Linked DNA regions of Homo sapiens. The protein of the gene in region 3 interacts with the protein of the main gene of each other region in a pairwise test. Each region holds a gene or a part of one and is shown on either strand. Other genes may lie near its edges.

What was found.
Region 1: the proteins of HES6 (region 3) and TLE1 interact in binary tests that used the Homo sapiens proteins (3 or more experiments, as listed by UniProt).
Region 2: the proteins of HES6 (region 3) and RAB2A interact in binary tests that used the Homo sapiens proteins (3 or more experiments, as listed by UniProt).

Annotation. Positions count from the first base shown.
Region 1 is NC_000009.12:81,580,931-81,590,235, forward strand, and holds the end of TLE1 (transducin-like enhancer protein 1), read right to left. Parts: intron 9,181-9,305; exon of another isoform or gene 8,578-9,180; intron 6,947-8,577; exon of another isoform or gene 6,899-6,946; coding exon 6,751-6,898; exon of another isoform or gene 6,745-6,750; intron 4,726-6,744; coding exon 4,575-4,725; intron 3,595-4,574; coding exon 3,518-3,594; intron 3,376-3,517; coding exon 3,268-3,375; 3' UTR 2,753-3,267; downstream 1-2,752. UniProt on the Homo sapiens protein: Transcriptional corepressor that binds to a number of transcription factors. Inhibits NF-kappa-B-regulated gene expression. Inhibits the transcriptional activation mediated by FOXA2, and by CTNNB1 and TCF family members in Wnt signaling.
Region 2 is NC_000008.11:60,509,111-60,520,460, forward strand, and holds the start of RAB2A (ras-related protein Rab-2A), read left to right. Parts: upstream 1-7,876; 5' UTR 7,877-8,097; coding exon 8,098-8,143; intron 8,144-11,350.
Region 3 is NC_000002.12:238,235,861-238,246,827, reverse strand, and holds HES6 (transcription cofactor HES-6), read left to right. Parts: upstream 1-6,789; 5' UTR 6,790-6,922; coding exon 6,923-7,003; intron 7,004-7,080; coding exon 7,081-7,167; intron 7,168-7,259; coding exon 7,260-7,341; intron 7,342-7,576; coding exon 7,577-8,001; 3' UTR 8,002-8,561; downstream 8,562-10,967. Other genes in the region: PER2 (period circadian protein homolog 2), read left to right, coding at 304-453. UniProt on the Homo sapiens protein: Does not bind DNA itself but suppresses both HES1-mediated N box-dependent transcriptional repression and binding of HES1 to E box sequences.

The DNA.
Region 1 (9,305 bases), on a different chromosome or scaffold from region 3:
TACCTGGGAGGCTGAGGCAGGAGAATGGCGTGAACCCGGGAGGCAGAGCTTGCAGTGAGCCAAGATCGTGCCACTGCACTCCAGCCTGGGCGACAGAGCAAGACTCCAACTCAAAAAAAAAAAAAAAAAAAAAAATCACAGCCCACTGTATGAAATTTGAAAGAACACAGACAAGGCTCATGGCAGAACCTGCATTTGGTCTGTCCTGTGAGGCCATGGGGACACAGCTTCCCTGACCCTTGGTTATATGAGGATAATGATAACCACCTTCTGACATTTTTATATGCGAGACTGCCACATACCTCTTGGCACATGGTGACCAAAGAATCTGAATTTGTTGAAACTTACTTTGTAACCCATATTCAGGGCAAAAGGTATACAAATATTTGGCTTACTAGATCTCAACAATCACATGATTCCAGTCTCCTGGGGGACAGGAGTGGTGACTCCTACGGTCACAGCTTAGGAAGAAATTGCTCTCCCACTTGCACTTGCATTTGTGAGAATCACTACTCACAACCCTGTTCTCATACCTACCGCCATCCTCCAGACCCTGAAAGGTAGACACAATTTTTACTGTTCCCATTTTCCAAGTGGGAAACACTCAATTGTCTGGGCAATTTCCTAAGACTCTAACCCTTCTGTAGCTGGGCTTGCACTAGTCATCTCCAGGACTCTTGCCACCAACACAGTCAGAGCCTCTTCCAAAATCAAATAGAAGTGGCTTCATCAGATTCAAGATGATCTATGAGTTGATAAAAGTTTCAGAAAAATACCGTTACAGAAAGAATGTCACAAGTTTGGGAACTATAAAGTATGAGGGAAAATGAAGGGAGAAAATCCACTAACAGAAAACGGGAGTATCTCTTTAACCCACACACATGCATCCCCCTTCTCCACGGGCATATGGCTGCAAAGCAAGACATCGCATTTCCAGTCTCCCTTGTGGCCACCATGTGACAAACTCCCTGCCGACGGACTGGCAAATAAAAGTGATGGAACAAATTCTAGTCACCTGCTTAAAAACACATCGCTTTCCCTGGACTTCTGCTCTTTCCCCACTGCTGGCTGGAAGTGGTGGCAACTAGAGAGGCCTTACAAGTGCAGAGCTGCATTGTGGGCCTGGGTCTCCGGGTCACAGGTAGGAGGGAGACAAACTCTAATGGTCTTTAAGCTACTTCATTGTTGGTATTAGAGAAAATAGGGAAGTAAGGCGGGGAGGGAGAGAGAACAGAAAAGATAAACACTCCATTACTCCATTAACAAGCCATCTGAGTCTGTCAGATAGAAACCTACTTCGTTATACAAGGAAGGGATGACAGCATAATCAGCTTTAGTAATGGGGGTTTGCCATTCACTTAATGAGAAGTGAAAATATTTAACTCAGTATATAAACATTTTTTTTTGGCAAAAAGCAAACAAAGTAATGTTTTTGAATATATAAAGAACAAGGTCTTGGTAACAAATGAAAAATATTAAGACAAACTGCCAACAACTCGCTGGATCATAAGAGAACAAGAACATTAAAAATTCCTTAGGTGCTATTTTTAAACAGCCGGGAACACTGCCTTAAATTTATTAGCTATTATTTTATAAAATAATAGAAAATAATGGTGTATAATAGTATATAGTATATAAAAAATAAGCCATGTAGCTTTTTCAGGAGGAAACATGGATGGTAACTTATTAAAAGCCCAGGATTACAGATTTCATCTAATCACATTAGTAAAAGCATGTCCACAAAGATAAAGACCAAAGACTAATGATAGATAATAATGGCTAGAGCTGCAGGGAGGGCCTTAATGAGAAGAATGCGGAGAAGTGATGGGTATGGTTGGCTTAAGTAACTTAATATAATAGACCAAATAAGTATTAATGAAGACAAAACCAGCTGACTTTCCACCTTTTACAGGTTAATGAACTCTGCAGCTTTCTGTGTATCATAGATCATAACACAAAACCCAAGTGAAGCTTGTGAAGAGAGAGAATACAGATTTGAAACTACTGAGGCCAGCATGTAGTGGGTCATGCCTTTAATCCTAGCACTTTAGGAGACCAAGGCGGGAGGATCACTTGAGGCCAGGAGGTCGAGACCAGCCTGGGCAACAAAGTGAGAGTCTGCCTCTACAAAAAATAAAAATTAAAAAAAAAAAAAAAATTAGCCTGGCTATTCAGGAGGCTGAGGTGGGAGGATTGCTTAAGCCCAGGAGTTCAAGGCTGCAGTGAGATGTGATCATGCCATTGCACTCCAACCTGGGTAACAAACAATGTGAACTCAAATCTTTAAACAAAAAAAAAAAAAAAAAAAAAGGAGAGAGAGAGAGAGAACGAAAGAAAGAGAGAAAGGGAAAGAGAAAGGGAAAAGGAAGAGGAGATTGGGCCTTCCTAGAAAAAGGAATATTTTGCCTTCCAATGAATCACCAGAAAAAAGTAGAGCTTTAATCTTTGACCTTGAATCACAATAGTATCATAACAAAAGAACAAATCTTGATGAAGTAATTTTACTTTCCTAAAGAAAACTGTCATTAGTAAACCTTCAATTACTCACAATTCCTAGTCTTGAGCTCCCAGTAACTCAAGCTTGTGAAGGATTAGGTTCTAATGCAATGGGAGCCTACCACCAAATATATTTATAAAATAAGCAGTGCAATTCAAAACTTCCTCTACAAATGTATAATCTTTGCTTATAAAACCCACATTGATGATCCCAAAGCTTTAATAAAAAACAATAAAGAAAGAAAAGGAAAACCACTTATTGGTACTAAAGCCTTTACTGTAATAAACCAAATATATTTACAATTTATACAAATGTTTAACCTTCAACAAAAATACAAAAAAACATTTCACAAGATGCAAAACCAGGAAACAAGTTCATTGGAGACACCACTGCTCTACAAAGGACGGAAAGTGAGGTGAACTGCAAGGAACAGAAAGGTAATCTCACACTTGGGCAAGGCGTGATCCCCAGATCACCCAGAAAGAAAGAATGGGCTGTCATGTGAGTCGGCAGATTCCGTTCCTCAATCCTACAACCCATGGCCCCTCTGTCCGCTTGGCCTTGGTGCTCCATTTGGTCTATGTAGACAGGTGACTTTCTGCTGATGGACTTGTCGCCTCCTCTTTGTAGACTCAAAGTAGTTTTCTGTCAAGGTTTGGAAACAGGTGTTTGTAATTTTTTTTCTCTTTTAAAGTTACAACTTTTCTATTTCTATAAATTCGAAACATTTTGGCCCAATTCAACTATAAACGTTAAACCACATAATGTTTTCAGTAGATGACTTCATAGACTGTAGCCTTCTTGTCCCCCGAGCCAGTGACTATGTACTTATCATCCACAGAGATGTCACAGCTAAGCACTGACGAGGACTCTTTGGACTGGAAGAGAAAACAATGGACATGTGTTTAATGTGGAACAACGGTACTCAGAGGCCCTGCTCCCTCGGAGGCACCTTCACTCCTGGCTTCAGAGGCGACACTGTGGTCAAACTGTGGATCTAGGTGAGGAGTACTTACTCACCTGGAATATGCTGGCTCCATAGGGGGTCCGCCAAGCATTGAGGAGGTTATCTTTTCCAGTACTCACAAACCATTTACCTAGAATTAGCAAAGGAATATCTAGTTTTCACAAGGTTAAAATTCCTACTATACAATTAGCAACTTGGACTTAATCAAACTAAGAACATTTTTAATATATGAACTATCATGCCCTAAGGACTGGTCCATGATATGAACAGAGGTTTTAATCTGGGCTCCTCAGTGATTTATCAGTGATCTTGGGTATAATCTAAGAGGTATCAGCCTCCTTAGTCACTGGATACAGGACTAGTAGCATCATATCCAACACACGGTAACCCTCAAATATAGAAATCAATGAAGAATGTGTTCTATTTTAGTCAGTCTCCTCATGATAAAATGGGATTAAAGATTCCCATCTTTAATGGGAATTAAAGGATTAAACATCCAACTTAAGTAAAATGCCAGTCACATCATATAGCATGAAGAAAAATGCTCAATAAGTGATAGGCACTCATCCACCCATCCATCCATCCATCCATCCATCCATCCATCCATCTATGCATACTGTGAACAGATATCTGCCCATCTGCAGCACACAAGAAGGGTCACCACATGAACTTCTTCCCTCTTCATCCTCACTGTAGAGTAGAGTGTAACTAAGTGTCTGCGTATACCTAAATATCGACTTCTCTAACCCTGGATTCCTCATCATGGCCAGCTCATAATGACTTCCACTGCCCCTGCTCCATTCTTCAATAAATTCCCGCCCACCCCTCTTCAGAGTAGAAACTCATTGTCGTCTCCCAACCCCTCCAAAACAAACTTGTGTCCAAACCGTGTATTAGGCAATCACATTGCCTGCTGACTTTTCTCAAATTAGCAAAACAGACTGAAACAGACATTGCTGTGCTCTGAAGGGCATATTAAAACAATAGAATTATTGCATCCAGCTGCTCGGAGAACATTTTTTCCAGATTATGATCTCTACCATATTTTTTTAAGAAGCATTTTCCATTTGGGCCATCAACGGCCTCCAGTTTCCTTTCGGCTGAACTCACCACAGTAAGCAAATTTCAGGGACAGCACGCAGCTCTCATGCAGGTGCAGCTGGTACTTGTCAGGCTTGTTCACGTGCAGCACCTCCACATTGCTGCTCTCCATGCCCACTGCCAGCCACTCCCCGGTGGGGCAGTACCCCAGGGAGAAGATCTACAAGGAGCAAGACAGGCTCACTCATTATTCCGCCTGATACACTTAGGAAGGGAAGACGCAATGTGAAAAGTGGGGAAATAGCAAGAATGGGGGGAAGTAATCAGCCAAGTCCAGACTGTGGGGAGGTCCACAGGGCAAGTGATCTAACGCAGATGAACCAAGTGTCAAAACCTTTAGGAAACTGGAAACATTTGAACCCCTCTGTCTTTTGGGATAAAATTAAGAAATGATTCCTAATAATAATGGCATTCATCTGTACATTTTAAAGGAGGCTTTACCTTTTAGAGACACTAACTGAAATACGATCATATATCACCTATCAAGGGGGATACATTCTGAGAAATGTGTCGTTAGGTGACTTTTTTTTTTTTTTTTTTGAGACGGAGTCTTGCTCTGTCGCCCAGGCTGGAGTGAAGCGGCGTTATCTCGGCTCACTGCAAGCTCCGCCTCTTGGGTTCACGCCATTCTCCTGCCTCAGCCTCCCAAGTAGCTGGGACTACAGGCGCCCACCACCACGCCCGGCTAATTTTTTGTATTTTTAGTAAAGACGGGGTTTCACCGTGCCAGCCAGGATGGTCTCGATCTCCTGACTTTGTGATCCACCCGCCTCGGCCTCCCAAAGTGCTGGGATTACAGGCGTGAGCCTCCGTGCCTGGCCTTGTTAGGTGACTTTATTGTGTGAACTTCAGAGAGTGCACTTACACACACCTAGAGAGTGGAGCCTATCGCTTGTAGGCTACAACCCTGCACAGCATGTTACTGTACTGAATACTGTAGGCAACTGTAGCATAACGGGAAGTATTTGTACATCCAGATACATCTAAACATTGAAAAGGTACAGTAAAAATATAGTATTATAATCTTAAGGGACCACTGTCACATATGCGGTCTGTCCTTGGCTAAAAGGTTATATGGTGCATGGCTGTGCTTATGGATACAATGATATGCTGCTAGAGTTTATTTTAAAATAATCCAGTGTCTGGGGGTGGGAACGAGAGTTATCATATGGCCAAATAACTTCAAGCTGAGCGATGGGCATGTGGCATTTATTGTACAATTCTCTGTGCTTTCATAAATGCTTGGACATTTGCTGTACTCATATGTATTTGAGAATTTCTCTAAGAAGTTTTAAAAAAAGGCAGAACAAAAATTGTATCCTGCTTATGTTGGGAAAGAGTGAAAACAGCAAGACTCTAAGAAACTCAACAAAATGTTAACAGGAATATGAAATTTAGAAGTATATATGCTTGTTTTCTGTTTCTGTCCTAGTTTTCTGAGTAGAATTATTTTTATTACAAAACAAGGTAAAAAATAAATGCCAAGTCATGATCGAAAGAACAATTCTACCACCAGAAAGCATTTAAAATGGCAAACACTGTTTTTTCCAAAACAAGTCTACATTCAGACATTGGACATCAAAATACTTTTCACAATCTACAAAGTTGCCATTTATACATTATTTCAAAAGTCTGCAAATCTAGTCAGCCACCAGTTCATTTTTTAAAGGATGAGGAATAAAATGGGTATCACTGAGGTATCTGTGCATTTTTTTGAGCTCTCTGGTGCGGGGTAAATAAATGAACTTTCAGAGGAGCTGTGACTTTTCTCTACTCTTAGTGACATTCTGCAGATTTCTCAAGTTCTATTTATTTAGGAATCAAAAAATCATCTCCTACTCCTGCATTAGATGGTGAGAATATGTGCCACAGATCAAACACTGCTGAAGGAAAACTATACATTCTTCAATGTACAAATCCCTTAAACAAACTCATATGTAAATATAACAGAGAACACACCTTAACCTACAGGATTCTAAAAACCACTCTAGTTTTGGGGAAGGTAGGGGGAGGGTCGTGAAGGAGGAGGTGGTGGTCATTGTTTTTAAATTAGTTATCTCAAATTCAGCCCTGATCTGTTTGTCCAGCCACTACCATCCTAGGGTAAAGGAGGGAGGGTTGTGAGGAGGAAGACACACCCCAGCCACCTCCCAGACTCCAGGGCAGGCGGAAGCCACTCAGTCACCTGGGAGGTGAAGTCGTGCTGCTGCAGCTGCCGCCCCTCGCGCAGGTCCCAGGACCTGACTGTGTTGTCCAAACCACCCGTCCAGAGCTTGGTGCCATCATTAGAAATGTCAATACAGCTGGCTCCGTCTGTGTGGCCCTGGAATTGCCTGATAAAACAAACCAGATTGAATAATGATTTCCTGCCAGAGCTCAAGGTAAACACTGTTGTGTTGTTAGTTTTGGACCGTGTGTGTGTGTGTGTGTGTGTGTGTGTGTGTGTGTGTGATCCCGCCAGTGTCTGCTGATGTGCAAGATCAAACTAACCTTCCCCTGAGGAGGAGGGGAAACAGCACCTGCGATTGTCTTTCCCTGTTTTCCACGATCCAAGTGCTAAAGAAATGGAATGCCACTGCAGGTCACTACCCAGAACTTAAATATGCTACTCTGACAAAACCGTCTGGAAGGTAAAATTCTTTCCAGGTCTGGAAAAGTGTTTAATTGTTAAATAGAAAATAAAAGACAAACACACAAAATCCCGATTGTATTCCTTATGGGAAGATAAAGGTCTGTTCTTTAATCGTGCAGGCCTGAGTCCGTGAGAGAAAGAAATGGGGACGTTACAAGCACAGGGTGTACAGAAGCATTCCTGTTTCCATGAGTGAATCAACACAGCAATGCCCTACGTGCCAACAGAGCATGAGCTCATGTATTTACTCAACCTTGCTTTCTGTGTTAGAAAGAGCCCTGCATTAGGAAATCTGGACTCCCAGAGACAAAGGGTCACGCATGCCGGCCTCCTGACCTCAGAGGCATTGGGCAGAGACACAGGTAATTGCTGAGGCAGACCCACGGGCACCTCAGCAAGACTCTGCCTCCAAGCGGAGCACAAGGTTGTTCTTTAAAGAACCTTGTGCTTCATTCAAAAATCGCCATCAGAAACGATCAGCCAACAGGGATCTGCTGAGCACAGATGCTGTGCAAGGCAACTAGCAGAGCTGCTGAGGGGAGGTCAGTGTAAGCCCCAGCAGGGACGGTGACTGGTGGACTCAGTTCTGCATGCTGAGAGGAAGGTGGTGGGGGAGGCAGCCAGAAAAGGCGAGCAAAGTCTAGACCCACCCTCAGAAGCAGGCGGGATCCAGTAAAGAACTGCGTGGGAATTTCAACACTGAGAAGAAAGTTACCATGCTGCTTCTTCCTCCAGGATCCCCACACCTTATCATTCCTGTAGAGCTCCAAACTTTTAACCTGAGCTTGGATTTTAAAGAGTGCAAGGGAAGGAAAAAGCACCACTACTGCCCTAAATTCTAAGCCAAGACGTGAACCATCACTTTTAAAATCTTCTCTCTGCAAGCCATCCCCAACTTCTGCACTTTAGGATCCAGGTTGAGTCCTCTCTCCTGCGGCCGTGCAGCTGGACCTCCAATGTTTCCGCTTGCTTCCCAGACATCCCCACAGAACACCCAGGCCTGGAGCAGTCCCTGCTTCACTTGGTGAAAGTGTTGCTTTCCTTCCCTTCAAACAGCTCTGGAAATCCAGTGACCCTCTGACTTCTTTTGACCTTTCTAACTCATGAAACGCTGTTCCTCCTTGACTGAAAACACCTTCCTCTGCTGACATACAGTACCTGGCAGCTGCTCCCCCATCCCTCTGCCCTCTCTCCGTCCATATACTATACTCCAGCATTACTCTCAGGCACATCCTATGACTGTTCAGAACGTGCTGGGTTACAGTGGATACAAAGACATTCAATAGGCTTTACATGGCCCTATTACATGCAGCAGCCACTAGCCACCTGTGAGTGGTCCAGAGAAAGATTTGTAAGACGCTACCCCATTCTATCCAACAGGTATTTACTCCCCAGGAGCCGGCACGGAGCAAGGGTTCAGAGTACAGACGAGAGCAGAATGCCTGGGCCTCAACTTGGCTCCACCACATCTGACTGTGTGACCTGAAGCCAGTAACTTACCCTCTCTGAGCCTCAGGCACTTCCTCTATAAAATGGGGCAAATAGCAGGACAGACGTTATGAGAACTAAGTGGAGGAATATTTGAAAAGTGCTTAGAATTGATATTTTGAAAGTGCTACTTATGGAGTTTTAAAAAAAGAAAAAAACAAGTAACTTTTGCTAGGATAAAAGGTGGAGAGGGCGTTCGGCCCTGGCTCCATCATTCCATTTTGCTCACCTACACTACCCAGCAAACAGAAGAGGAAAGTAACTGCCGCACTGTCACCCACACGCAGGGACCGGGCCCGGCTCAATGACACTTCATGGATTTCTACAGCGGAGGTTTGAAGAGAGTGAGCTGTCATGATGACTTCTGGAGCCCGTCCCTTCTCTGTGCAGCATGAGAGGGGACTTACCAAACAAGCCACAGACCCCAAACTGCACCATCCGCAGGGACGGCTTCCCAGCAAAGATGAAACAAGAGTAAAACATGTACTCATTTTACCTTTCATGTTTCATTCATGCTTACTTTAAAAAGACTTTTTGAGAACAGCTCTGGTGTGAGCACTGACTTCTGAAGGGAGCATTTGGCGGGGGAGCTGAGGAGAGACACATGGGTACCAGAACTG
Region 2 (11,350 bases), on a different chromosome or scaffold from region 3:
AAATGTTTGGAAAACTAGACTCCTGTTTCTCCAGATTAGAAATGAAATTTGATCCTGTGGTGGCAGTTTTTCTCTCTCTCATCATTACATATGTTAGAAATTCTGATAAGGAGATTGTTAGAAGCAGAGATAAAGATTATATAAAAGAGAGAGGAGACAGAAAAGGAGGTGAAATGTAATCTCACAATTCCCTGCACCACTTATTTATTTCCTAAAATCTTGTCTCACACAAAAGACATCAGAGACAGAAAGTTTTCTCTGTCCACATCTCCCATAGGGACAAAGATAGCTTACCATTTCTTGGAAAATAAAGAAAAAATGAATTTTTCTTTACCAAAATTTAAACACCATTAGGGATAGAGGTTAAAATTAATTGAGACATCTGTAAGAGTAACAAGTACCGCTACTCTGGGTACATTGCCCATGGGGTAGCCCTGCTCCACAAGAAGCAGTAAAGCTAAAACAAACAAACAAACAAAAAATAAAAAAAGAGTAACAAGTAGTTCTCTCTTTAGCACCATGTGAAGTATATTTTCATGATCCCATTCCCATTCCAATCCCAAATTTTCCAAAGCAAGGAACACCTACTATTTAACATAAAACATAGGACATATTAAAGACAAATGAAGAGTAGGGTTTGAAACCGTTGCAAGATCTGGTCTCCACTGACAAAAAAAAAAAAAAAAAAAATTCAACAATGTAGATGATAAACTACTACCGACTTTACCTGGTTGTGTAGGAATTGTTCCCTTAATATACTTGGATACATTTGTAGAAAATAAGCCACCTGCAACTTGGTATATATATACTCTCCTAGCAATAATGTACTTTTCAGAGTGTCTTCACATCTATCGCTAGAAATGCTATTATGTAAGTAACCAGAATTATTATCTCTTTTGAACAGATGATGAAAGTTTGAAGTGGACTTTCTCAAGGACAGCTAGTTAGTGGCAAGGAAGAGACTGTAATTCAGACTTTCTGGAATCCAAAATGGAGCCTTTCTCCTGACCATTGTCTCTGTTGAATGCACTAAGCAAATCTCTAGGACTTAGAAAAAATAATTAATTTAAGAGTATTATTCTTGTTTTTAATTCACTTTTAAGTTCTATATGAATTATTAATTCAATATCTATTATATAGTGGTTTTTTTTTAAGATAGGGTCTCACTCTGTTGCCCAGGCTGGAGTGCAGCAGGAATGCAGTGGCACAATCATTGCTTACTGCAGCCTCAAACTCCTGGGCTCAAGGGATCCTCCCACCTTAGCCTCCCTAGTAGCTGGGAATGCAGGTATGAGCCACTGTGCCCAGCTTATATAGTAATTTTTTTAAATAGTTAAAAATAATTTTTAAGGCCAGGCAGAGTGGCTTACATCTGTAATCCCAGCACTTTGGGAGGCCAAGGTCGGAGGATCACTTGAGTTCAGGAGTTTGAGACTAGCCTGAGCAACATAGCAAAACCCCATCTCTACAAATAATTATTATTTTTGAGACAGAGCCTTGCCCTGTCACTGAGGCTGGAGTGCAGTGGTGCCATCTCGACTCACTGCAACCTCCATCTCCTGATTCAAGCGATTCTCCTGCCTCAGCCTCCCAAGTAGCTGGGATTACAGGCACATGCCATCACACCCAGCTAATTTTTGCATTTTTAGTAGAGATGGGGTTTCAACATGTTGGCTAGGCTGGTCTTGAACTCCTGATCTCAAGTGATCCACCCTCCTCGGCCTCCCAAAGTGCTGCTATAACAGGCGTGAGCCACTGTGCCCGGCTATACAAATAATATTTTTAAAGTTAGCCAGGTGTGGTGGTGTGTGCCTATTGTCCCACGTACTTAGGAGGCTGAGGTGGGAGGATCACTTGAGCCCAGGAGGCTGAGGTTGCAGTGAGCATGATTGCACCACTGCACTTCAGCCTGAGCAACAGAAACCTCATCCCCCCCAAAAATAAACTTTTTTTATGCAGACAAGGTCTCACTATTTTGCCCAGGCTGGTCTTGAATTCCTGGACTTAAGTGATTCTCTCACCTCAGCCTCCCAAAGTGCTGGGTTTACAGGTGTGAGACAGCATGCCTGACCAAATAGTTATATTTTTAATGCAGTATTTTATAAAATTGGCTTATTGTTATCCCAATATTCATTGTTTCTGTTCCATACACTTATATGAGTACTTTCTATTACTAATGACCAGTCCATTGGTATAAAGAATAGCCTACATATAAAAGAAACTTTTTTCTCCCACCTACACACACTTTGACTGAGGATGTGAATTTGCTGTCACTAATTTTTGACTCTTCAAGTAGCTTTCTGAAGGATGAGCAGAACGGAATGGAAAAGAGAAAACAGTCACTTCTGGCTTCAACATGGAACCAGATTATTGAACCAGAAACAATGAATATTTGGATAATAATAAGCTAACCAGAAATAGGTCATGAGTGGAAAAGCAAAACAAGAAATATTACTAAGAATGTTATCCAACTAGACTAGAAATGGCATATCAAGTAGATGAGAAAAACCAAGTACAATAAGGAGGGTTGTTGAAGCACCTGGAATGACTACGCTAAGACAATAGCTATAAAAGATAATGCCCTTGAAGACCCAGCTTAAAAGACTCTCCCTCTGCAAAACCTACCCTCATTTCACCCCCAAAAAATTGTACTCTCTAAAATAATAGAGCTCCTCTCCTGTAGCCTTCATCAGGCCAAAGTTATTTATGACTTAGCACAAGACAACTCTCCTTTAAGGCAGGGTCCTTGTTGGGCTCATTTAACTCCTATGGTTTTTTTTGTTTGTTTGTTTTTAGAGACTGAGTCTCATTCTGTCGCCCAGGCTGGAGTGCAGTGGCACAATCTCAGCTCACTGCAACTACCCCCGAGTTCAGGTGATTCTTCTGCCTCAGCCTCCCAAGTAGCTGGGACTACAGGTGCGTGCCACCATGCCCAGCTAATTCTTGTATTTTTAGTAGAGATGGGATTTTGACATGTTGACTAGGCTGGTCTCAAACTCCTGACCTCAGGTGATCCACCTGCCCCGACCTCCCAAGGTGCTGGGATTACAGACATGAGCCACTGCGCCCAGCCTCCTGTGGTTTTTTGTTTTTTGTTATTGCCAGTTGTGAGAGTTGGGGCAGAGGGAGAGATATATTTCCTTTGCAGCTACAGTTCTTATTAACAGGTTGAAGGTGGAGGAGGACAAGGAGGAGAGGAAAGGAAGGGGGAAACAACCTCAATGTTTAAGAAGTGTCCTCTGTGTGCTTGACATAGTGCTAGACATTTTATATATGTCATCTCAGAGGGGAAACTAAGGCTTAGAGCATTTAGTAATCTATCAAAGATCACTCAACTGATGTTGAGTGGTAAAGTCAGGATTTGAATCTAATTATTTCTTCTTCCAAAACTGGTACTGAGTTCCGGTGTGGTGGTTCACACCTGTAATCCCAGCACTTTGGGAGGCCAAGGCAGGTGGATCACTTGAGGCCAGGAGTTTGAGACCAGCCTGGTCAACATGGCAAAACCCCATCTCTACTAAAAATACAAAAATTAGTCGGGTATGGTGGTGTGCACCTACAGTCCCAGCTACTTGGGAGGCTGAGGCATGAGAATCGCTTGAACTCAGGAGGTGGAGCTTGCAGTGAGCTGAAATCGCACCACTGCACTCTAGCCTGGGTGACAGAGAGAGACTTTTTCTAAAAAACAAACAAACAAACAAACTGGTACTGAGTTTAAGTATTTGCTGGAAAATTAGTTCTGTTATGGTACTTGGAGATGGCTGAAGGAAGGCATTTCACAATTGTTCTTAATTATTTCTGGGTCATGGAAGAATCTCTCCCATAAAAGTGTACATGTGCAAATATATACATCATTATCAGTTTTGCATACCATTTCAGAAGGAGTGGCTAAGGAACCATGGAAACCAAGGCAAAAACCTCAAGATTACAGTATTCCCAACCACCTTCTCCCATTCCACTCCACCCTATCCCTCTTCCCAAAGCCTGAGAGTAATTAAAACCAAAGAAAATATAAACATGAAAGTTTAGTTGGGAGAAGCAAATGCAAACTTCTAATATAGTATTGTACTCAAAAATGTCATGGAGAACTTGATTAGGAGACACTGAAGAATGTAGTGCTACAATCTTGAAATTTCACAGTTATGACCTTCAGACCATATATGATGTAAGGCTGAGAGACAGAGTTACCACAACACATCCTAAGAGACTGAAAATAGCCGAAAATCAAACTGAATGGAAAATTCCAGGAAGTATACTATATTTAATGGAAGAGAGGTTTATTTCTGTTATTTTGTCTGGGGGACTTTTCTTGAAAAATATGTTTGGATTTTTATGGGCTAAAGAAAATGTTTTAAATGAGGTTTATGTGATTTTTATTTATACCCTGTATTTTTTCGAAGATTTAAGAGATTATAGGTTTATAGAAAATATAACAAAATATTATGAATCATACATAGGAAAAAAGGTAGAGACATAAAATAGAGCCAGGAACAAACTTAATTTTAAACCATGAATTTATATAGTGATTAGGCCTTTAGTTCCTCAAGTTAATTTCTTTTTTTTCTTTTTAATTTTCTGTAGAGACAGGATCTCACCATGTAACCCATGCTGATCTTCTTGAACTCCAAGGCTCAAGGGATCCTCCAGACTTTGCCTCCCAAAGTGTTGGAATTACATGCATGAGCCACCGCACTCAGCCCCTCAAGTAATTTCCAAAAATTATGCAGTGCAAAGAGTTTTATGTATTAGGTATACATTTTTCATAATTTACACAGTATTTTCACATACATTATCTCATTTGATCCTAAATGGACTTTGTTAAGCAGTTATTATCCACATATTCCAAATAAGGAAACTGAAGCCCAGAGAAGAACTTGAAAATCCTGTTCTTCAAGGTGGGAGAATTGCTTGAGGCCAGTAGTTCAAGACCAGCCTGAGTAACAGAGGGAGTCTCCATCTCTCCAAATAATAATAATAATAATAAATGATATAGGCGTGGTGGCATGTGCCTGTGATCCCAGCTACTCAGGAGGCTGAGGCAGGACAATCACCTGAGCCCAGGAAGTCAAGACAGCAGTAAGCCATGACTGGGTCACTGTACTCCAGCCTAGATGACAGAGCAAGACCTCCTCTCAATCAATCAATCAATCAATCAGAACAATATGCATTTGACATCTATGGCCCCTGCATTTTCACGAGAGGATTACTACCTTCTTTACAGATGGCTTTAGATTTGGAGGCTGGCTAAGCATAAAATTAAAAGACGTCATGCTTGGAATAGCCCTTTTAAGAAACACTTAACTCCTTTACTTAATAGACAAGTGCACTGAACCACTCATAATTTTTTAAATTATTTTTATTTTAATAATTATTTTATTTATTAAGACACAAGGTCTCAATCTATAGCCCAAGCTGGAGTGCAGTCGCACCATCCTAGCTCACTGCTGCCTCAAACTGCTTGGCTCAAGCTATCCTCCCTCTTCAGCCTCCCAAGTAGCTGGGACCGCAGGCACAAGCCATCGCAACCTGTGCTCTGAAGCTTTAAGAGGCCAAACGATTCCTCACATTCATCCGATCAGTTACAGGTAGAGCCAAGACCAGAAGCCAGGTATCCTATTTTCCTTATAACACATTGCCTCTATAGCTTTATATCCATTTCTATGATTTTTGTTACATACCCAGTTCTGACCATTTCCTGTCACAATTTCCTTTGTCTACTAAGTAAAGTTCTAAATGCATGGTGACATAACATACAAGGCCCTACATAACCTGGCACAAGAGACCTCTCCAGGTACTCTCCTCCTCTAACAGTGTAGGAATACTCCTGACTCCTAGGATGCCAGGCATTTGTATAACATCCTAATAGAGTTGTGCTGGTGAAGGAAGGCCACATCCCTCTATCTTGTGAGAGTGAAGACTTGAGTTTCTCCATCACCAAGGAAGACTTGGGTGAAGGCACTCAAGTGGGAGGGACAAAATGACATCTGAAAACTGGAGGCCTTGGGCAGGGACCTCCCCTTCCTCAAACTAAAGGTGAATGAACCAAATTTTGCGATTCCAGGTAGCTTTTCATGTCAAATTTTCATGTCAAATTCTTCCGTGCCATCTCTGACCCTTTAGTAAAATCCCCTCCAAATATTCCAGAAAAACCTTGTGAGTTCATATTTGGCAAGGCCATCCAAAGCATGTTAGCAACCCAGCATGATGGTGTCAGTACTAATTACATAATGAGAGGCCCCAAAGAGAAGAGTATTAGGCAACAGGAACGAGGGCCACTAAATCCCAATCGCTTTTCCCCAGCAATGATTCTCCTTCAATATGAGGTTATGGGTTATGAGGATATGAGTTAGTCAATTAGCTTCCTTATGCAACTTCAAATTCCCTGAACAGATCCAGGAATTTTGCACATTCTGTTCCTTGTCCATAAACTTTGGTTCCCCTCCCCAAACTGTTGTTCTTTCGACAAACTCTATACATAATTCATATTCCTGGCTCAGAAATCATAATCTCTAAGTAACCTTTCCTGACACCCTATTCTCCACCTCCTCTTCCATAACCTGTGGTCTTTTTGAACAGAGTGGTGACATTTTGGGCTGGATGACTGAAAAAGCAAAGTAGAAAAACAGAACATAGAACATACAGGGCCTCCAGTTGCTGTGCCTGGCGGTACATGAAACATAGTATTCAATAACTATTCTTTGAATGCACAGTCATTTTGTTTTTTCCTTTAACAGTATTTCCTAATAGGTAACTCATGAACACTGCAAAAAATGTCAAACTGCACAAAAAAATTCAGGGAAAAGTACATTTTCCCCCCAATCCCATTCCCTCCTTTCTCTTAATACCAGTTAGCTTTCCTTTCAGATTGATTATGCATATATGGGTATGTAAATGTTTTCCCACTATTTGTTACACATAAAAATTATATACAATTCATATATTACATATGGTGCATGTTATATACACACACATAAACAGATCATCTCGGTTTTGCTTAACCTAAGTCAGGCTTTTTTTTTTTTTTTTTTTTTAGAGCAGCCCTCAGAACCAGGACAGGTTCAGAGACTTTATTTATTTTTTATTTACTATTATTATTTTGAGACGGAGTCCCGCTCTGTCGCCCAGTCTGGAGTGCCGTGGTTCAATCTCGGCTCACTACAACCTCCACCTCCCAGGTTCAAGTGATTCTCCTGCCTTAGACTCCGAGTAGCTGGGATTACAGGCGAGCACCACCACGCCCGGCTAATGTATTTTTAGTAGAGACGCGGTTTCGCCATGTTGGCCAGGCTGGTCTCGAACTCCTGACCTCAGGTGAGAGCAACGTAGTACTCCACTGTGCGTGCATACCATGATTTACTTTGCAGTCCCAGATTTACGGTTTCCAATTTATAAATACTGCCATTTTCACCTTCAAGCCCCGATGCCAAACACAGAAATACCAGGCCACCCCCACCCCCTCGCCGTGTGCCTCCCACATTTTCACACACATTTTCAGGAGCCCAGGGCGCAGCCTCACACCGAACGCCGCCTCTGCCGTCCCCTCACTTGCCCCGTGCCCCCACCGCAGGGCTGAAGGCGACGGAACCGAGCCTTTGTACCCCCACCAGCCCCGTTCCCTGGCGTCTCCCGGCCGCCGGGCTCGCCCGCTCAAACGTGGCGGAACAACCGGAGCCGGGCCCCGCCCTGCTGGAAGACAGGGCGGACCGGGCAAGGCAGGCGCGGGGCGGGGCGGGGCGGGGCTCCGGCTGGCGGGGCGCGGCCAGCGTGCAGGGCTGGGCCAGCGTGCGGGGCTCCTCCCCTTTCCTCCGGCGGCGCCGGCGGCCGCAGAACTTCCGGGTCGGCGCGGAGGCGGGGCGGAGGCGCCGCGGCGGCTGTTATTGTTCGGCTGGGCTCGGTCGGGCGCTGTCTCCCTCGGCTCTGCGGGTGTCAGTTCGTCCGGCTTCCTCACAGCCCCTCACTCCCGGCGGCTGACAGCAGCAGCGGCGGCGGCGGGCGGCGCCTGGCGTTTCGAGGCTGAGCGGCACCGGGGTTGGGGCGCGGAGGAGGAGCAGCAGCGGGAGGAGGAGCCGTGTGCCCTGGCACTGAGCGGCCGCGGCCATGGCGTACGCCTATCTCTTCAAGTACATCATAATCGGCGACACAGGTGAGGGCCCCGGGCGCGGCCGGGCGGGTGTCGGCGGCCTCCGGACCCGGGCTGAGGGGCAAACGGCGTCTGGCGGTGGCGGGGACGCGGACTCCACCCGGCGCCTCCCTCCTGGCCGCGCCGCTCCATTTCCGCAGTGCTGGAGCTGGTGACGTGGGCACTGCGAGCGGCCGCGGCCTGGCCAGGCCCGGTCTGCGGCCCCCGACCCGGCCAGTCTTGCAGCTGAGGGCCGTGGCAGCCGTTTGCGACGCCCGATTCAGGAAGTGTGTGACAGGAGGGGAGGCCTAGCGCAGGGCCGCCGGGGCCCGACTCACATGACTGCACCCCACCCCCAGGGCCCCTTGCGTTAGGTCTCTTCGCGGCCCCAGGAAAAAGAAGGAGGGAAACCTAGGGGAGCAGAAGGTGTTGGGGCCCGGGTCTTGGTTCCTGACCAGTCCAACCTTCCTCCACCAGCACGCATCTATCAAGGCCTGGGCAAGGCGCTTTTTGGCGTGGGACAGGCAGCCGAGAAAGAGAAAAGGAAACCTTTAAAATATGTATTTTATATATATACATATATATAAAATATGCTTTTTTAACACCTTCAACTCTCACGTCAGAATAAGTCACATCTCATTACTTGACGGCTGGAGAATCCCTTTCGGGGTTAGGAAAGCATGAACGAGTTCTGTGGACTTTTGCCACGTGTGAACTGGGGTTATATAGTAATGTAAAGTCGTTCAGTGCTCTGGGTGTGTACTTAGGTATGTGTATGTTGAGGACGCTGATGTTTTAGATATGTCAAGTCCGGTGTCACAACTGCTAATTTTCAGGTGAGCTCATGTCCATGAGCTGAAAGAAATTCAGTTATTCTCACTTAAAATGACGTCCTAGTATATTTCACAGAAAAGTAAACAGACTCTTCGTAGATATTTTTAATACCTGTGATTTGGCATTACTTTGAATCTAATAATAAACATAAAGATTGTTTAGATGTTGCAACTATTAATATACCAGAGTCTGATTTCAGTGGTTACTCTTGCACAACTTTGGACCCTTTGCACAACTTCGGTCATGTAAGCAGCAGTTTGTAGTTGAACTAATGATGTGGCAGGTTCTATAAGTAACTAAAGAAGCATGTTGGCCGGACGCGGTGGCTCACACCTGTAATCCCAGCACTTTCGGAGGCCGAGGTGGGGGATCACCTGAGATCAGGAGTTCGAGACCTGCTTGGCCAACGTGGTGAAACCCCGTCTCTACTAAAAGTACAAAAGTTAGCCGGGCGTCGTGGCAGGCGCCTGTAATCCCAGCCACTTGGGAGGCTGAGGCGGGAGGATCACTTGAGCCCGGAAGGTGGAGTTTGCAAAAAAAAAAAAAAAAAAAAAAAAAAAGCATATTTATTGCTGCCTGAAAGAAAAAATTTCTGCTAGATACATGAGTTTTCAGCAAGGTTTTCTGATGCGTGCGTGCGTGTGTGTGTGTGTGGAAATTGGATTTGTAAACTTTAAAAGAAAAATGCTGTGGTGTATTTGGAAGAAGGAGAATTCTAAAGTCTTCTGGCAAAATTTCATTTAGGCTGTAAAAACAAGATTGGAGAGGAATGCCACATTAACTGTAATATGAGTGGGTTTGAGAAATAGAAGCTTGTGACTGTGGCATTTGGCTATCTCATTAGTGGTGAAAATTCAAATCAGACTTTGCTGGTTGCCTTTTTTCAGTTTTTTATTTGAGGCTGTACTGTGGATAAATAAAGTATTGTGCATGGAGTAGTGGGGCTACAAATCCTAACAAGTTAATGCTCTGTTCTCTTGGAATTTGCTCTTATCCAAAAGCAGTCCCCACGCAATTCAAAGGGAAGACACTTCTTTCTTGTCATTGCTGCTGATACGACCTAGTTCAGGAACAGAATTCTTGACACTGTTATAGTCTGCAGCAGTACTTCTCCCTACTCCAGTTCAGCCAGTGTAGTTTACTGTCAGTTTAGTCATCCTGAAGCATGAATGTCAAAAGGCTACTCCTGTTTGCTCACAATTTTTAGTTTGACCTTCAGTGAACTCTATATTTTAGCCCCTATCTACATTTCTCGCCTTCTTTCCCGCTATTCCCCACCTTGCTTCTGCCATTGAGTCCCAGTGACTGATTTTGGTGTTTTTTTCCTGGGCACTGCTAGTCTCTATTCTTAGAGTGCTTTCCGGCACAATCTCTCCCTGTGGAAGATCCATCAGTCCTTCAAAGTCTTATCTGAGTTTTCCGTAATGCCTTCACAGTCAACATATATTAAGCTCTTATTGTGTGAAGATTTTCACAGTATCCTGGCTGAAAGTGACTACTCCGTTTCTGAATTTATGTTTCTCACTTTGTGTCATTCTTCTGATATTGATCCCAGACTTTTCTGTTGTATAGATACTTGTATAGGCACCTCTATTATGTAGGTACCTATTATATACTTCTTGAAGTCAGAAAAGATGTTTTGTATGGCTCTGTATTTCTTTCAGGAAGAGCGTAGTAGAAGGTAGGCCCTGTATATTTAACTAATAAGAGAGGAGCCAAACAGGCTACTATATTCCTGTTTGTATATATTAATAACTTAACAGAAGTGGTGTCGTTGTTGTTGTTGTTGTTGCCCAGTTCTGCCACCTTCTTGCTTACTAATTTGGGCAAAATCCTTTACCATATTTCTTTAATGCAGAGTGTACCCATAGTTGTAAGATACACTCAGTGTGGCCCTCCCCTAGAAAAGATGACTTTAAAATCAGTAATGTGAGATCCACTTTGATTTTTTAAAAAGTCAGGGTCAAAAACATGCATCTTAGAATGAAGGAAATCACCTAATTTTTCTGTTTCCCTGTTTCCGTAACCTATAACCTTCTCTCAGTATGTGGGATAAAATGAGGATAAATGTGAAAGTACTTTGATTTCTCAAAGGAAAGGAACAATGCACATTTTTCCTTTTCAGAATTCCCTCTTTAATAGAAGAGGTTTTAAAAACTTTTACATGATCATGATGATACTATTGAGCTGTTTTCTTACTGTAAGACTAAATGCAGTTAAAATGTAGCTTTAAATTTTTTCCTTGTTCCTGTCTTGTTTCTGAATCATTTAGTAAAATGTGTCATTTAAATCTAGATGTAAAGTGGAAAGTGGTTTTTAATAAGCAGTTAATTATCAAGCATGGAGAGAAAAAATACGAATCTATAGTAATTTTTCTTCTGAAATTCTAGCATCTGC
Region 3 (10,967 bases):
CTCCGCTCACTGCAAGCTCTGCCTCCAGGGTTCAAGCGATTCTTCTGCCTCAGCCTCCCAAGTAGCTGGGACTACAGGTGCCTGCCACCACGCCCAGCTAATTTTTTGTATTATTAGTAGAGATGGGATTTCACCGTGTTAGCCAGGAAGGTCTCGATCTCCTGACGTCGTGATCTGCCCGCCTCGGCCTCCCAAAGTGCTGGGATTACAGGCGTGAGCCACCGCGCCCGGCCAATTTGAATGACTTTTGTAACAACTCAGATCTCAAGTTTGTTACTGATTTCTCTTTTTTTTTCTTTTAAGGAATGTGTTTACTGTGAAAACAAGGAAAAAGGTAATATTTGCATACCATATGAGGAAGATATTCCTTCTCTGGGACTCAGCGAAGTGTCGGACACCAAAGAAGACGAAAATGGATCCCCCTTGAATCACAGGATCGAAGAGCAGACGTAACCCCTGCCCCACCTCAGCCCGGCAGCCAGCGAGGTACACCAGGTGGTGCTTGGAAGAGATGAAAGATCTTCATGGCTGTTTCCACTGAAATGGACACATATGCTCATGTTGCTTTTTTTGTTTTAGAAAAAAAAACAACATAGTTTTCTGAAGGGGCGACTTAAAACTGTGGAGAGTGGGGAGAGTTCGGAAAGAAATATGTTTTTATATATAAAATATATATGTGGAGTTTTGTGGGATGGGGAAGAGATTTTAGTTGTTATTTAACTTGAGAAAGACTAAGCGCCTCTTAGTGTCAGGGAAGTTGCCTCAGTGCTCCCAGAAGTCCTGTGACTGTGACGAGACCTCTGTCTGCTGCACCAGCTGGGGACTCTGGCTTCCAGAGCTTTCCCAGGGTGTTTGGATCAGATCAAATTTTGTCCTCTCTTGGGGACTGCTTTTTATCTGAATTATCATTTAGTCAAGGTAGAGTGTTTTTTTATACATACCAAATGGAGATAGCAGCCTCTCCTAGTTTTATTTCAAAACGTTTCACATTAAATGGTGTGAAGCGTTGTTTGGCAAACCAACAGCTTTGGCTTCTGGTGTGGTCAATATTTCAGTCTGACATAGGTTTTGTTTGTAGTGAACAAAGTTGAAACATTTGCTCTGGACTAAAGAAGCCTAGTGGTTTGTGTGGCCAACTCCATCGGATGAATGCACACGCAGACAGACCCTCTGTATATTTCTGCATTATTCTTGTCTCCTTTTCAGACCATGATGGCCAATATGGAGATTAAAATATGTCATCAGTCATCTCTTTATGGTGACTTCCCTTTGCAAACCAGGCTGTGACCAACACATGTGAGACCCAGTCCTGTTTGGTTTTCTTCCGTTGGAACCACCCAGACATCTGCTTCCACCCAGCCAAGCCCACATCACATCTCCTGGCCGAGAGCAGCCACTGCCACTCAGTCTGACAGCTTGCGACTGCATCTGTATTTTCAGGGGTGCAGTGAGCTCACCTCTCCCACTGCACCCTGGGTTGGGTGCACAGCCCTCATTCTTTTCATGAGCCCGACCTCTCTCGGAGCAGCTTCAGGCCTCTGCCAGTGTCCCCAGCACTTTTAGGTCATTTGGACACTTGGGGAAAAGTGAGGCCAGTCTGCCCGGCTTTTTACAAAACCTCATGTTGCATTGTATATTCCAAAGATGGTTCAGAAAATTTAATATTGGTCCCTGGTGGAAATTCAAAGTTATCACTGAAGAACAGTTGACTTAAAATTGGACCAAGACTATGAGGCTTAAAAGGGACCAGGGTTTTCTTTTTTTTTTTTTTTTTTTTTTTTTTTTAGATGGAGTTTCTTTTTGCCCAGGCTGGAGTGCAGTGGCGCCATCTTGGCTCACTGCAACCTCTGCCTCCCAGGTTCAAGCGATTCTCCTGCCTCAGCCTCCTGAGTAGCTGGGACCACAGGCGACTGCCACCACACCCAGCTAATTTTTTGTATTTTTAGTAGAGACAGGGTTTCACCATGTTGGCCAGGCTGGTCTCGAACTCCTGACCTCAAGCGATCCACCCACCTCGGCCTCCCAAAGTGCTGGGATTACAGGCGTGAGCCACCACGCCCAACTGGGACCAGGGTTTTCTGTTTTTTGATGGAGGTGAAATCTCTTTGTAATCCACTAGGTTTTCATCGTAAAACCATCTTATGCCTGACTATTAAACCTATTCTTCATAAACACAAGAACACTTTAATTTTTCGTTAATTTACAAAGTAACATCAGCTGCCTATGCCTATGATAAGGTAGCAGTCTGCATTCTTATGGCCATTAGATGTTACAAACTCCTTGCCTCTAAAGTCAGATCATGAAGGGATAGGTGTTCATCTAAGGTTACAGTTATGTTACCGAAACACAAAACTGCCAAAATCTTACTCTGCTGTTATGAATGTTTACCATCAGCATTATTTTATCATTTAATATGTGCTCACTGATTGTTAACTGTAGCTTCAGCGCGTGCCAAGCAGTTGACTTAATAGGATCATCTTGTGAATTTGTTTACGTGATGCCAAGCATCAAGTCATGTTTTCTTTAGTGTGTGTGCTTACACAGGTGTTAAACAGTTTTTCTCTATTTTAAACTGAGCCTTCTTTTTAATATATTCCCGAAGAGATATGTAAATAAGCTCTCAGAGTTTCTGTGATGATTTGTTGAGCCTTGCTGGACAAGTGGTTTGTTTGTGTGCAAACCAAACTTTCTTTACCCAGTGCAATAGATTTGTTTGACTGCTTGTGTCTTTTTATGACCTGTTTGCCTTTTAGAAAATTGGTAAATAAAGCAAGTATATTTTTATTTTTACTTGTATGTATTTTTCACATAGCACAAAGGAAAACCTGAATAGAGAGCAAAGATTATTTAAAAAAAATTTTTTTAAAGAACTCCAGGAATTCTGCATTAAAGAATCTTACATCCCAAAGGCCTCCTGGCGGTCAGCTCCCTTATAGCGTTTGCTTCTTGCTGGCTCCCTTTCTTCCTGTGCGTGTCACACACACACCCTCCTTCAGGCTGCAGGAGTGAACTCACGTAATGCAAACCTAATCGTGTCATGCCCCACAGTCTTTTCACTTTTAGTTGGAGGGGTGCAGCTGTCTGGCTCAGCCCCAGAGTGCCCCCAGCTCTGCCTCCACGCACCTCTGTCTTCCCTGCATCCCTGCCCTGGGTTACCTGGCCTTTCCAGGCTGGCTGCCTGTCTTCTGGTCATCGGGCTAGGTAGGGCTAAAGGTGGGGCGGTCAGGAGGCTCCACCAGGAAGGTCACATGTCTCCATTGCGAATGATATGGGCAGGGCGGCATAGTCCCCTGACCCCAGCCCTTCTTTCACAGTGATGAATGAAGCCTTGTGAGGCCAAAACTGTGGAAGCCCGAAGAGTTGCTCCCCATCCCTCCCACTCTTCAAACCATGACCCTGGGGGTGGGAGCAGAGAGCTGAATGGATCCTGAACCCAATGCCCAGCCTCTGAGAAGCTCCCTGAGCAGAAGGGAGGGGCTCTCCTCTGCCTGCTAGCCTGGCTGCCTAACGCCAAGTGCTGATGGGATAAAAGGCAAAGTCCTCCCTAGCGAGCACAGAGGCCTCTGCAAACTGCTCTAAATGGCCAGATATGGTTGTTTCACTGAACCTGAGTGCTTTTGGAAGACTCTTAATTGTATTTTTATTTACCATATAACCCCAAGGGATTTATTTCCAAACCAAACGGAGATTCTCTGAGTCTCCTGGGCAGATTGCCCACAAGGGGCCTGGACAGTCTACAGGCCGCAGCTGCCTTTGTTCCCCCAGGGATTTATGGCCTGCCACCCCCACTGCTAACTGGTATCCCCGCAGCAACCACCACCCTGCCCAGCCTCTGCTGGCCTCTGTTCCTGGCTCTAGGGGGATCAAAGGACTCAAATGCTCAGGAAGTCCATACTCAGGCAAACTTTGAAGGCAGGACTGGCCCAAGGGACAAATGGCAGGAAGTGTTGGCTAGGGGAGGCTGCTGTGAAGGAGGGAGGGAGGGCTTGGTGACCTCAAGATAGGCCAGGCTTCTGGGACAAAAAGGCCATGCCAGCTGGCCAGTGCACCGCTAAAGGGAATTGAAGCTGACCTTGCAGAGGGGACCTTGGGCAACTTCCAGTCCAACCAAGAAGGATTTTGCTGATGTACAGCCTTCTCTACTTAAGCTCTTTTCCCTGTAGGATCCTTGGTCACACCGAGGCATATCCCAGTGCTTAATTTCTCCCTCCCTCAACTCTAGACAGCATTCCTCAACCCTCCACCCACTCCACTGTCAGACAAGGCTTTTGAGGTCCCTAGTCCTCCCTTTAGCCTCCTCTCTCATAACTCCTATCACCTGTCCTTTTGTTTTTACAAGGTCAACTTTATATCATGTCCCATAACCATAAACAATCCTTCCTTGCCTTCTGTATAGATTAATTCTAAATGTTAAAACCCTATGAACACTGTTACATTGTTGTGACTGTGAAAATTGTCTCCTGAGCCAAGTAATGTGCTAAGATTACATTTCTTGGGAAGCTTTTTGTTTTTCCTAGAGTTCCTAGTTGCTTTTCTTTCTTTTTTTTTGCTTGCACCATTTGCCTTTATCATGTCCTCCTTGCCCCTCAAATCCAGTTCCCCATCCAATCAAGTGTTCAGTCAGGCTTTACCCAAAGTCCTCTTTTGGGGCCCTGATCATCCTGTTGCAATATAAATTGCCTAACATAAAGCAGATGTTTTAGGATGAGAGCATCCTAAAACATCTACTTGGCCTTGTTCGTTTGGATAATGAGAGGAGTGTAAATCAGTTTGCAAACTTGGGAGTACAGGAAATATCAGTGAGTTTATTTTTCCCTATCACAGTTTCTCGAAGTAGTGGAAATGTCATTGTAGCCACTTGGGGGAGTGGAGGTTCTCCTTCCCTGGGGTGATGTCTAAGTGGTGAAGGAGAGTAAAGTCACAGGCTAATAATCCACTTCCTTGGGATCCACCACTCCAGCCCCACCCTGCCAGCCCCACTACTGGGCAGGTGGGGAGTGTGTGAAGTAAAGCGGTAGTTTCACACCCAGGTGAGTGATGCTGGGCTGGGGGAAGTCTCAGGACCCTGCTCATAGAGCAACCAAGAGCCAGAGCAGGGACAGTTGGGAGCCAGCGGGAGGGGGTCCCAGGTAATTACAGAGGTCAGTGAGGTGACTTTGGGAGCTTTCAAACCTCTCACCAAACTCACCCAGCAGGAAGCCTGCAGGGGTCCCTCTGGTGGAGAGGCGCAAGTAAAGGGGCCATGGGAGGCCTGTCAGACCTCTCTAGGGGCAGTGGGGCGGTCGGTCTGCAGCCTAGTCCTGCCGCTCCGCTCAGCTGCTGCGGTCCCGTGATGTTCCCCTCCCACGCGGCCTTCCAGCCCATCCTGCCAGGGCCACCCCTCACCTTCCCTACCTACCAGCGCTTCTGTGAGGCCAGGCTCTGCTGGGGGTGCGGGGAGGTGGACAGGGGGTCCTAGGTCAGACTGTGCCCTTGTCCAGGGACGCTTATAGCCTGGAGGGGCTCAGAACAGACCCTGACGATCCCAGCCCGGGTGAGTAGTGGGGACTGAGGAAGGCAGGTGCTGTGCGGGGCAGGCTGGTAGTCGGCCGGCTGGGGTCCGAGAAGGCGTCTCCCGTTCCGGCTCCTCCACACAGCGTCTGGACTGACGCCGGGGCAGGAGCCGGGCAGGGGTCCCCAGGACGCTGCCCGAGGGCGCGGCCCCACCGCCCACGCACCCCGCCCGCGGCCAAGAGGAACCCAGCAGATGGGCGGCCCGCCGCGATGGGGGAGTCGCGGGCGTCTGGCCGGGACAAGCGCCCGCCGCCTGCCCGCCGGACAAAGGGTGCGAGACAAAGGCGCGGCCAACACCTGTCGCTCTTGGCGCGGCCGCCGCTTTTCTCGCTTTTCTCCGCCGAAGCGGCCGCAGCTGCCAACTGTCACGGGCATCAAGTTACAGGACCAGACGGCAGCTTCGGCGGGCCTGGGAGGCGGGGCGCGGAGGACGAGGAGGGGAGGAGGGAGGCGGGCGGGGGGCAGTGGAAGGGAGGGAGGGGGCCCCGGGGGCCAAAGGGGACTAGAGGGAGATGGGGGAGCTCAGAGGGGGGCGGGGCTGGTGACCCGCAGAGCCCAGGGGGAGAGCGGCGCGGGCGGGAGCACCCGGGACCCCGCCCCACTAGGACTCCAGTGCTGGCGGAGGGCGGCGTCGGGGGTCCGGCCCGGCGTCTGGACGAGTCCGGAAGAAACTCAGGGGCCGCCCCGCCACCGCTGCCCAATGGACCCTGCCTCCCCGGGGCTTGGCAGCCACCCCAGCCGGGACCTGAAACCCCTCTAGGTCCAGAGACCGCGGACTTGACTGTGGCTCTGCACACCAGGGACGCATCTCCTGGGGCCAGTGGCCCCAGCGCTCAACTCTGGAGGCGCCATCGGCGAAGGAGGGAAATGAATGAATTAATGGGTGAATGAATGAGTGGACGGACGGACGGACGGACGGGTGGACGCCTGCTCGCACGCGCGGCAGATCAGTGGTCCTAGAGCAGCAGACGGAGAGAAACAAGCGCGGGCAGGGCCGCAGCTACCCGGGGTCGCCGCCCCGGTGCCGCCCCCGCGGGGGTCTAGGGAAGGCCGGGCTGGGGGCCCCGCCTAGCTCAGCCAGCTGCCCGACCGCCAGAGCCGCTGGGCCGGACAAAGCGCGCTGCCCCGATTGGCTGCAGCGCGCCTCGCGGTCGGCCGCCCCGGGCCCGCGCGGCCAATCGGCGCATTGAGATGCAAATAAGCGGCTATAAAAGGGGCGGGACCGCGGCGGGCCGGAAGCCGCGAGGAGCGCGGACGGCTGGGCTGCTGCTGGGCGGCCGCGGGGCAGCGGAGGGCGCCGGCACTCCGGTCCCCGCCGCTCCCCGTCCCCGCTGCTCCTAGCCCCTGCCGCGTCCCCGGCGGAGCGGGCATGGCGCCACCCGCGGCGCCTGGCCGGGACCGTGTGGGCCGTGAGGATGAGGACGGCTGGGAGACGCGAGGGGACCGCAAGGTGCGGGCCGGGGCCATGGGCGAGCAAGCGGGCGGGAGGCCGTGCGGGGCTGGGATTCAGTGCCCCGCTCCCCGCAGGCCCGGAAGCCCCTGGTGGAGAAGAAGCGGCGCGCGCGGATCAACGAGAGCCTGCAGGAGCTGCGGCTGCTGCTGGCGGGCGCCGAGGTGCGGCGGCCGGGCAGGCGCCGTGGGGCTGCGGGGCGGGCGGGCGGGTCCGGGAGCGCGCTGCCGGCTCACCGCCCTTCCCGCCCGCGCAGGTGCAGGCCAAGCTGGAGAACGCCGAAGTGCTGGAGCTGACGGTGCGGCGGGTCCAGGGTGTGCTGCGGGGCCGGGCGCGCGGTGAGTGGCGGCGGGGCGGGCGGGGGCGCCGGCCGCGGGCGCCTGTAACCCCTGCCAGACGGAGGACTTCCCTCCCGGCGCCCCTGTCCTGTCGGCGGCGAGGGCTCCCACCGGAGCAGGGTGCGCCCCCGCGTCTCCTGGGTGAGCCGCGTCCCCGCGGGCCGGGTGGGCTGGGCCACGCAGTCGCCGCTCACCGCGCGGGACGCGGCTCTCTCCCTCCCACCCTCGGGCCCAGAGCGCGAGCAGCTGCAGGCGGAAGCGAGCGAGCGCTTCGCTGCCGGCTACATCCAGTGCATGCACGAGGTGCACACGTTCGTGTCCACGTGCCAGGCCATCGACGCTACCGTCGCTGCCGAGCTCCTGAACCATCTGCTCGAGTCCATGCCGCTGCGTGAGGGCAGCAGCTTCCAGGATCTGCTGGGGGACGCCCTGGCGGGGCCACCTAGAGCCCCTGGACGGAGTGGCTGGCCTGCGGGGGGCGCTCCGGGATCCCCAATACCCAGCCCCCCGGGTCCTGGGGACGACCTGTGCTCCGACCTGGAGGAGGCCCCTGAGGCTGAACTGAGTCAGGCTCCTGCTGAGGGGCCCGACTTGGTGCCCGCAGCCCTGGGCAGCCTGACCACAGCCCAAATTGCCCGGAGTGTCTGGAGGCCTTGGTGACCAATGCCAGCCAGAGTCCTGCGGGGGTGGGCCCGGCCCTCCCTGGATCTCCTCCCTCCTCCCAGGGGTTCAGATGTGGTGGGGTAGGGCCCTGGAAGTCTCCCAGGTCTTCCCTCCCTCCTCTGATGGATGGCTTGCAGGGCAGCCCCTGGTAACCAGCCCAGTCAGGCCCCAGCCCCGTTTCTTAAGAAACTTTTAGGGACCCTGCAGCTCTGGAGTGGGTGGAGGGAGGGAGCTACGGGCAGGAGGAAGAATTTTGTAGAGCTGCCAGCGCTCTCCCAGGTTCACCCACCCAGGCTTCACCAGCCCTGTGCGGGCTCTGGGGGCAGAGGTGGCAGAAATGGTGCTGGGCACTAGTGTTCCAGGCAGCCCTGGGCTAAACAAAAGCTTGAACTTGCCACTTCAGCGGGGAGATGAGAGGCAGGTGCACTGAGCTGCACTGCCCAGAGCTGTGATGCTCTGTACATCTTGTTTGTAGCACACTTGAGTTTGTGTATTCCATTGACATCAAATGTGACAATTTTACTAAATAAAGAATTTTGGAGTTAGTTACCCTTGAAGTATTGTTGAGTGATGTGTCATTACTGTGTCAAGATATGTAAATGCTAAACTAAGCACATTTCCCCTGCATCTGAGGCTGGTGAATGTCCTTTAAAACCTCACCCTTTCTCAGCAGAGTGAGCAGTGTGATGGTGGTGGGGATGCACTCCGTGGCTGTCTCTGCAGCAGGCAGTGCTTCTGCCCCCCATGCTAGGCAGGTCCTCAGACCCAGCCTGTTCTTGGGCATTGTGTGTCCTGGAGAAGGAGTTTGTTTGCATGAGGCTTGTCTCCAGGGTAACTCAGCAATAGGGAGATGACCTGTCTCTGTGCCATTTTCTTGTTCATGAGCTTCAGGAATAATAAAATAATGCCTAATTGCTACCTATTTGGTTTGAAAGTATCTTTTAAAGACCTGTTTTAGGACCCACGAGCATGACATAGACATGAGTCTACTTGTGTGAGGTTGTTGCTTATCTTGACTGAAGAAGGAACTTCCCCACTGCTGCCATTGACTTCAGGGTCAAGGAGACCCACCCAGTTTGTGGCCTGAAATGAAAGCGCCAAGGCCCCAGGGGGCTTGAGCGTTAGGTCAAACTGGGTCCAGGAGGTCAGAACCCTCAGGGATGGAGGGTGGCAGGATGGGCAGCTGGGGTGCGGGAGCCTGCCCTCTTGGGCTCGGCCAGACCTGCAGATAGCACGTGGTCAGCCGGCTGAAGTCACCGCCACAGTTAGCCTAGCCCCCTCCTCCTGCTCCAGGACCCCAAAGCAGCAGCTTCTCACTGTGGGTTGGCAGTCCCCAGGCTAGGGCCAAGGTGTGACAACTTAGGATTGACGTCGGGGTCTCCTCTCTGGACATGTGCTTTTGCCTTAAGAACACCTTTCCCAGCAGCCCCTTTACAAAAGCCCCCAAGCAGGTCCTGGCCACCAGGGGTGTTTCAAAGTTTGAGGTTCACTCTGGCTCACCTCAATTCAATCATAGAAGCCATTGGGCTATAACCAGATGCAGCTTTATCATCTGGAGCCGAGCTATTGGGGCAGTGGGGGAGCCAGTGCCACAGAAGAAGTCTTGAGCAATGGAAATATCATTCCTGGGATTATTTTAATGTCCTCAGACAGGCTGATGTAGGATGTACCCACCAGGACACGGATGGATAACGGGCCATCCTGAAAGCCCTGGTTTCCAGTAGCACCCAGAGGCCATGCCAATGAGCTCTCATGCCATTCAGGGAGCATCAGCCATGGACTGCTTCAAAGGAACAACTTTCACCTCTCAAGTCCACTCATCACACCTTCCCAGATGCCCTAGGAGGGGGTCAAGGGGAAGCCCAGGAGGCAAGGTGCAGGAGGCTGACCTGGAGTAAAAGCGTTGCTAGGACCAGAGTCAGAAGCCACTAACCCAGAACTCTGGCCCTGTGCCCCTCCAGCCCTAAAGTCAGCTTCACAGTAATCCTCAAGTGCAGCTTCTTTTGGAAATGTAACTGGCTCCCACACCAGTGACCACTGTTGGCCTCCTGGGGCTGAGAGCTGCTCTTGCCTGCGGTGCAGCCTGGGGCCACCAGCTTCCCAGCCAGCTGGTTGTTTCACACCAGCTCCTCTCCCAGCACCCCCAGGCTCCCCACAAGCCCTTCTCTGAGGGCTGTCTCCTTCCCACCCGGATCCCTTCTCTAAGGGCTGTCTCCTTCCCACCCGGATCCCTTCTCTGAGGGCTGTCTCCTTCCCACCCGGATCCCTGACCCACTGTATTACTTTTCTATGGCTGCCAAAACCAACGACCACACTCTTGGTGGCTTCAAACACACGATTATTGTCTTGCAGTTCCACGGGTTAGAAGTCTGTCAGGATTCACTGGGCTAAGATCAAGGTGTTGGCAGGCAGGGCTGTGTGCCTTCTCCTGCCTCTTCATTCAGGGGCCACCCACATTCCTTGGAGGATGGTCCCTTCCTCCATCCTCAGAGTTCCTCGGAAGCATTGCGTCTCTCTGACCCTTCTTCCTTGGTCACGTCTCCTCCTTACTTCTACTTTTAAAGATCCTTGTGATGACACCAGCCCCCTGGAGAATCCAGGATAATCTCCCTGTATGAAGGTCTTTAGCTTAATTCTTAATCACATTTGCAAACTCCCTTTTGCCATGTAAAGTAGCATATTCGCAGGTTCTGGGAACTAGGATGTGGTCATGAAGGACATTCTCTGTGACACCTGCCTGCACCCTGGCCCAGGCGTTCTGCCTTCCATCATGAAGCAGTGTGGCGCCCGCTTCCGACATGGGCATGGGCCCCCATCCCTGCTCACCTGCTCAGGGACTCTGCTCTCCACTGCACCATTAGCTTCTCCTCCCTTCTGGATCATTCTCATTAACCTACAAACGGGCTGTAATATGAATACCTTTACTCGGAAGAACCTCCCTGGATGTGACATACTGTTAGCCT